2 linked regions of the Homo sapiens genome follow. The protein of the gene in region 1 purifies or fractionates together with the protein of each later gene. This does not show direct contact. Each region holds a gene or a part of one and is shown in the gene's direction. Other genes may lie near its edges.

Evidence for each region. The genes of interacting proteins can lie anywhere in the genome.
Region 2: the proteins of SCN2B (region 1) and EXOC7 purify together in Homo sapiens (affinity purification with mass spectrometry; 4 studies listed by BioGRID and IntAct, with this or other methods). This does not show direct contact.

What each region holds. Positions count from the first base shown.
Region 1 is NC_000011.10:118,166,640-118,170,139, reverse strand, and holds part of SCN2B (sodium channel regulatory subunit beta-2 precursor), read left to right. Parts: intron 1-1,388; coding exon 1,389-1,555; intron 1,556-1,844; coding exon 1,845-2,055; intron 2,056-3,053; coding exon 3,054-3,253; 3' UTR 3,254-3,500. UniProt on the Homo sapiens protein: Regulatory subunit of multiple voltage-gated sodium (Nav) channels directly mediating the depolarization of excitable membranes.
Region 2 is NC_000017.11:76,083,652-76,086,787, reverse strand, and holds part of EXOC7 (exocyst complex component 7), read left to right. Parts: intron 1-642; coding exon 643-708; intron 709-990; coding exon 991-1,111; intron 1,112-1,378; coding exon 1,379-1,474; intron 1,475-2,207; coding exon 2,208-2,271; intron 2,272-2,498; coding exon 2,499-2,540; intron 2,541-2,648; coding exon 2,649-2,782; intron 2,783-3,037; coding exon 3,038-3,136. UniProt on the Homo sapiens protein: Component of the exocyst complex involved in the docking of exocytic vesicles with fusion sites on the plasma membrane.

The sequences.
Region 1 (3,500 bases):
CACAGCAGTAACCCCCAGGGCCTAGACTAAGTGCCTGGCACACAGTAGGTGATTTATAAATATTTGGTAAATGAGTGAATGAATGATGCTGAACACTGCTGTTTATCCTCCATAAAGAAAAGGAATCTTCTGAGATAAGGTTCTTGAGGATACGGGCAGAGCATCTTGGAATGAAGGCCAGGGCTCAGGTGAGTCCAGTGAGGTGCCTAGGGCGTGACATTTAAGGAGGTATTTCCATGACCAGGCAGTGGATGCCCCTTAAGTGTCTTGCCCCAGGCCCCTCGCTCGCCTCCCTGTAGGCTCTGTCCTGCTTAGAATGTCGGAGTGGGACAGGCCTTTCTCAGCCCCAGCACCAAAGTCTCCTGGCCTCAGTCTGGTGTTCCTAATAGGACTCTGCAGAACCAGCAGCTCCCACCCTGCCTGCCTGTAGCAGCTCCTTGCTGTGGTGTCTCCAGGTTGACATCTTCAAGAGGGACTCCTGTCCCTGCAGACCCATCAGCTGGTCCTTGGAATGGTGCCTCACCTTCTGGGGCACCTCTTCCCTCCCACAGCTTGTCTGCCCTCTTTCTTGTCTGTTGCAAGCCTGAGGAAGGTAGGGGGCTGGGCTGGGCTGGGACACAGCTTTGCTCTGTCCCTGGGGTATGGAGAGCGAGGCCTTCCAAATCTCCAGCTGTTCTCAGTCTGCTGTCCTGAGAACAGAACGGCAGGGGAGCCCTGCAGTTTCAGCTGGAAGGGTTTTGGCCCAGCAAAGATGGTTAGAAGTGGTGAGAATAAGGGGGAAACTGAGGCAAGCATAGTGAAGCCCCTTGTCTGTGGTCTTCTGCTGGCATGTGACAGAACTGGGGCAAGTGTGGTGGGGGCAGGGGTGCCTAACAGTGGTTCTAGAAAAGGCTTGAGGCCGTTTGGCTGCCCCTGGCTTGACAGATATAGATGATGTGACGATTTGGTTTCTCTCCTCCCCTACCTGCTCTGTGGCCCCGCTTTGCCCCAAAGACCACATCTGGTGCCCCATATGTGCCTGCCCACTCCAGGAGTATGGACTGGGGAGGCTGAGTGGGCCCCTGCCAGGAAGAACGAAGTCCAATTCCATGCGGCTTGCACCTGTACTCCCAGCTACTTGGGAGGCTGAGGTGAGAGGATCACCTGAGCCCAGCAGGTCTAGGCTGCAGTGAGTCATGATTGCGCCACTGCACTCCAGCTTGGGCAACAGAGACCCTGTTGCAAATAACAGTAACTCCCACCTCCTGATTAACTGGAGCTGTCAGGGACCCAGTCCCCTCCCTGTGGCTCTGCTCTGCCTCATCCCCCAACACTCCCAGGCACAGAGGGCTTGCCCCTCCCCAGCCCTTTCAGCCAGACTCCTCACCAGCTTGTGGCTTCATCTGCAGTGCCACCAGGACGGAGCATGGAGGTCACAGTACCTGCCACCCTCAACGTCCTCAATGGCTCTGACGCCCGCCTGCCCTGCACCTTCAACTCCTGCTACACAGTGAACCACAAACAGTTCTCCCTGAACTGGACTTACCAGGAGTGCAACAACTGCTCTGAGGAGATGGTGAGTCCTGGGCTGAAGGCAGGGGCAGGGGAGGAGGTAGGAGCCCCATGGCATGAAGCCCCTGGTCCCACCACCGGCCCCGGCACTGCGCTAGGGCCCCAGAGGACCCTGGGTGGGCTGCGTGCTCTGGAGGCTCTTGAAACAAGGTGTGCTGCGCATCCAGGTGCCTCACAGAGGTAACTGCCTCTCTTCCCCAGGAAAAGGGTGGATGGGAAGAGGGGGCATCCTCACTGTCCTTGTAGTTCCTTGCTCATCCAGCCACCCATCCTGTCCCTTGCTCCAACCCCAGTTCCTCCAGTTCCGCATGAAGATCATTAACCTGAAGCTGGAGCGGTTTCAAGACCGCGTGGAGTTCTCAGGGAACCCCAGCAAGTACGATGTGTCGGTGATGCTGAGAAACGTGCAGCCGGAGGATGAGGGGATTTACAACTGCTACATCATGAACCCCCCTGACCGCCACCGTGGCCATGGCAAGATCCATCTGCAGGTCCTCATGGAAGGTGAAGGCTGGGGTGCCAGCTGCGGGGCCCTGACCTTTCCCACCCACCTACTCTCTGCGGCATTTGCTCAGGGCACTTTGGGGAGGCCAGGCCCTCCTGAGGATGGGAGCAACCATTTGTGCTGCATAGAAGGAATCCATTTTCTTCCCTCTAGTCCTCAAGAACCTGGGAACATGTCCCAGAGAGTCCTGGTAATGATACAGAATATAATCCCAGTCTTAATAATGGGGCTTGGTGTGATGGCTCACACCTGTAATCACAGCGCTTTGGGAGGCTGAGGCAGGCAGATAGCTTGAGCTCAGGAGCTCGAGACCAGCCTGGGCAACATGGCAAAACTCCATCTCTACAGAAAATGCAAAAATTAGCTGGGCATGGTGGCTTGCACCTATACTCCCAGCTACTTGGGAGGCTGAGGTGAGAGGATCATCTGAGCCCAGCAGGTAGAGGCTGCAGTGAATCATGATTGTGCCACTGCACTCCAGCTTGGGCAACAGAGCAAGACCCTGTTTCAAATGACAACAACAGCAATAATAATGATGGTGATGATGGCAGCTTTCATTTATTGGGCACCTCTATGTCTCAGTCATAGGGCTAAGCTCTGTTTATGCATTATCTCATCCTCATGAAAACCTTTGAGGGAGGTACTATTATTAAGCCCATTTTACATGTTAGAAAACTGAGGTTAGAGAGGATAAGTTACTTAAGGTCACGCAATTCGTAAGTTGTACAATTAGGACTCAAATTTGGGTCTGTTTGATCTTAAAGTTCATGCTCTTAAATACTTCATCACACTAGCTCCTCTGGGGGCTTTGGGTGTCCTGGGATTTGGAGGTGGCGGCGCTTCAGGGTCAGTCACTGGATTGCTTTTCGGCTTTGCTAAAGTCCTGTCTGTGGAGGAGAGTAAAGTCAGGATGGTTCCACGCATGCCACGGGTAGTGGGGTGATGGGGGAGGCCCCTTTCCCAGCCCTGGTGCTCAGTGGCTCTGCTTCCTTTCCAGAGCCCCCTGAGCGGGACTCCACGGTGGCCGTGATTGTGGGTGCCTCCGTCGGGGGCTTCCTGGCTGTGGTCATCTTGGTGCTGATGGTGGTCAAGTGTGTGAGGAGAAAAAAAGAGCAGAAGCTGAGCACAGATGACCTGAAGACCGAGGAGGAGGGCAAGACGGACGGTGAAGGCAACCCGGATGATGGCGCCAAGTAGTGGGTGGCCGGCCCTGCAGCCTCCCGTGTCCCGTCTCCTCCCCTCTCCGCCCTGTACAGTGACCCTGCCTGCTCGCTCTTGGTGTGCTTCCCGTGACCTAGGACCCCAGGGCCCACCTGGGGCCTCCTGAACCCCCGACTTCGTATCTCCCACCCTGCACCAAGAGTGACCCACTCTCTTCCATCCGAGAAACCTGCCATGCTCTGGGACGTGTGGGCCCTGGGGAGAGGAGAGAAAGGGCTCCCAC
Region 2 (3,136 bases), on another chromosome or scaffold:
ACTGACTCTCAGTACCTACTGGGGAGCCTGAGTCAGAGGGGACATGAGTTTTCTCGGGGTGCTCTCAACTCTCTCTGCTCCCTTCAAGGCCACTCTGTCTCTGAGCTTATCCGCAGCACCTGCCCAGGCTAGAGCCCTGGATACACCCCCTAGGCTCGCCCGGCCTCCCTGCCTTGCTGTCCCCACTCGGCCTTCCCCACTGTGCAGGCCGCAGCTTCGTCTGTTCAGTAGGGTCTGGTAGAGGGGATGTTCGAATGTAGGGGAGAAGGTGGAGAGGCTGTGGGGAGCCCATTCTAAGACTCTGCTGTTGACAAAAGGAAAAAGGGGGCCTTGTAGAAACCACCCAGGGTGGGTGGGGGCAGGAGGGGACAGGGCGCTGGCATCTCACTCTTTTCCTGCCAGCTTTTCTGCTGACATGGGCCAGCTCCATCCCATCATAGAGGGCAGCTCTGGGTTCCAAAAACTCCAGGGCTGGTGCTTCCTGCGGCAGGGGCCACCCTGTGGCTTAGCAGGCAGCCAGCTCTGCCCAAGGAAGCCCAGGGCCTGTCTCAGTGTCCCCTCAGACTGCTGCATGGCCTGGGGGAAGGGCCGTTGAGGGTCTTGGCTGCTGCCACTGCAATAACAGGACTTCTCCTCTCACAGAGACCAGCTCTTCGGCCACCAGCTACAGCTCTGAGTTCAGCAAGCGGCTGCTAAGCACCTATATCTGTGAGTGTTCTCCCGGGCAGACCAGCAGCCCTGCTGCCTGCATGCCCTGCCTTTCCCTTCCTTCTGTCTGTGCTCTCTGGCTATTCCCAGGGCCCTCTCCTAAGTGCCATCTGATCTTTGGAACCACAACCTGACCTCTAGTTCAGAGGCTGAGGGGAGTTGGGCTAAGGCCTCCTGAGGCAGGACGAGGAGCGATGGATAGGAGCGCGTTCGCGGGTCCTGGGGTGGGGTCGTTTGGGTCAGACTGCCATGGTGGGTGTGGCCCCATTTTTCCCTGTGCAGGTAAAGTGCTGGGCAACCTGCAGTTGAACTTGCTGAGCAAGTCCAAGGTGTACGAGGACCCAGCTCTGAGCGCCATCTTCCTGCACAACAACTACAATTACATCCTCAAGTCCCTGGAGAAGTAAGTGGCCTGCGGGAGTGAGTCTGCGGCTCTCACCTTCCCCTCGGCTGTGCAGCTGTGCCAGCCCCTGCCCCCCTGGGCTCCTTCTCTTGTGGACGAGAGGGGAGGGGGTGCTTCAGTCTCCTCCACCCCAGGACCCGGAAGGTGGGATGCCATAGAGCTTGTGGAGTTTGGGGTGCAATGGGAGGCCCTCCCGGCATTGCCGCAGCCTTTGGGCCTGAGGAGCCAATCCTGTCCTCCTCTCCTCTGTCCCCTACCCCGACCCAGGTCTGAACTGATCCAGCTGGTGGCAGTGACACAGAAGACTGCTGAGCGCTCCTACCGGGAGCACATTGAGCAGCAGATCCAGACCTACCAGCGCAGGTGAGAGGCTGGGCCCGCCCTGCTCCTGCATGGGCCCCTGTGCCACCACGCACTCTTCCTTCTCAGCACCTCAGGACACAGAGTCGGTCACGGGGAACTCCTGTCCTCTGGACCCTAATCCTCCACTTGGTTTCTAATCAAACTCACGGGGTGGAGAGAGAAGCCCCCTCCTCTACCACTACCTGCTCCTAGGGGCCCACTATGGCCACTTTAGAGGGGAGTCTGCCAAGTGTCAAGGCTAAGAATGATTGAAGAGCTGGCTCTCAGAGACGTGGGTAATGTTTACCTAGGAGAAGAGCAAGGTCGCGAGAGCACTTGAACGTGGCTGAGCCTTGCTCTGTGAGGATCCCGCTGCTTCTCTGGTCCTCTTTCTTCCTGGCTTTGTTTCTTCCCTTTGAATGTGTCTACCTCTTCCTTCTCATTTATCTGCCCTCCACTCCTTTCTTTCTCATCTGTTTCTCCATCTTAGTTTGCCACGATATTGATGTGAAGTATAGTTGACAGTATTTGTCCAATTTATTGAACACTCAAGTGTTTCCTAATGTTATCTCAAAAAGTGACCAGTTTAAAGATTTTCTCTTCCCAGGAAGAAAACCTGTTGTTTGCTTAGTTGTGACCCACATCCCTTCCTACCACCACCCACCAAGTAGATCCAGAGATTTAGCAAACGAAACAAGCCAGGCCACTGAGGCAGGCCACCCTCTGCCCTCATGCTTCTCTTTCTGTCTGGCAGCTGGTTAAAGGTGACTGATTACATCGCAGAGAAGAATCTACCTGTGTTCCAGCCGGGAGTCAAGGTGGGCTCAAGACCTGGGCTGGGAAGGGGTGTCTGGCAGACGGGATACTTTTTGTCGTGTCTCTGGGAAAAAGTGGACAAGCATCCCTCTGGGATCAGAGAGCAAAGGATGCATGTGGCCATCAGGACACAGGAGACAGGCCCAGACCAAGGGTGTTTGGGGAAGAGTGGGGGAAGGCTGCTCTGCTCTGAAGTGAGCTTTCTCTGCTATCTCTCCTGGCTTCCCAGCTCCGGGACAAGGAGCGGCAGATTATCAAGGAGCGTTTTAAGGTGAGTCGGGGTCCTCTCCCCTCCACTGCTTGCTGCTGCTGTTGAGGCAACACAGACCCAAAATGTTTGTCTCTGGGTGCCTTCCTTTTTCACCTTTTTGGTGGCCAGGGCTTCAATGATGGCCTCGAAGAACTGTGCAAAATCCAGAAGGCCTGGGCTATTCCAGACACAGAGCAGAGGGACAGGATTCGCCAGGCCCAGAAGACCATTGTCAAGGAGACCTACGGGGCCTTTCTACAGAAGTGAGGCCTCCATTCCCCTCCCAGCCTGTGCTGCCCACAGCCCCAGTGGGCCTCTTCAAGCTCCTCTTCCTCAAGGGAAAAAGGAGAAGGGTGGTGGATTTAGGCAGCAGATCCAGCGACCTGGGCTTTGGGGCGGGGCCAGACAGGGAATCGCTCAGGGCCACCCCTTCCAAGACTATCAGGAGTGCCTTAGGCTGAGGGTGGAGCTGGGGAGGGGTCGGCCCTCCCTGTCCCCTGACCACAGTGCCTCCTCAGGTTTGGCAGCGTGCCCTTCACCAAGAACCCGGAGAAGTACATCAAGTACGGGGTGGAGCAGGTGGGCGACATGATCGATCGCCTTTTCGACACCTCTGC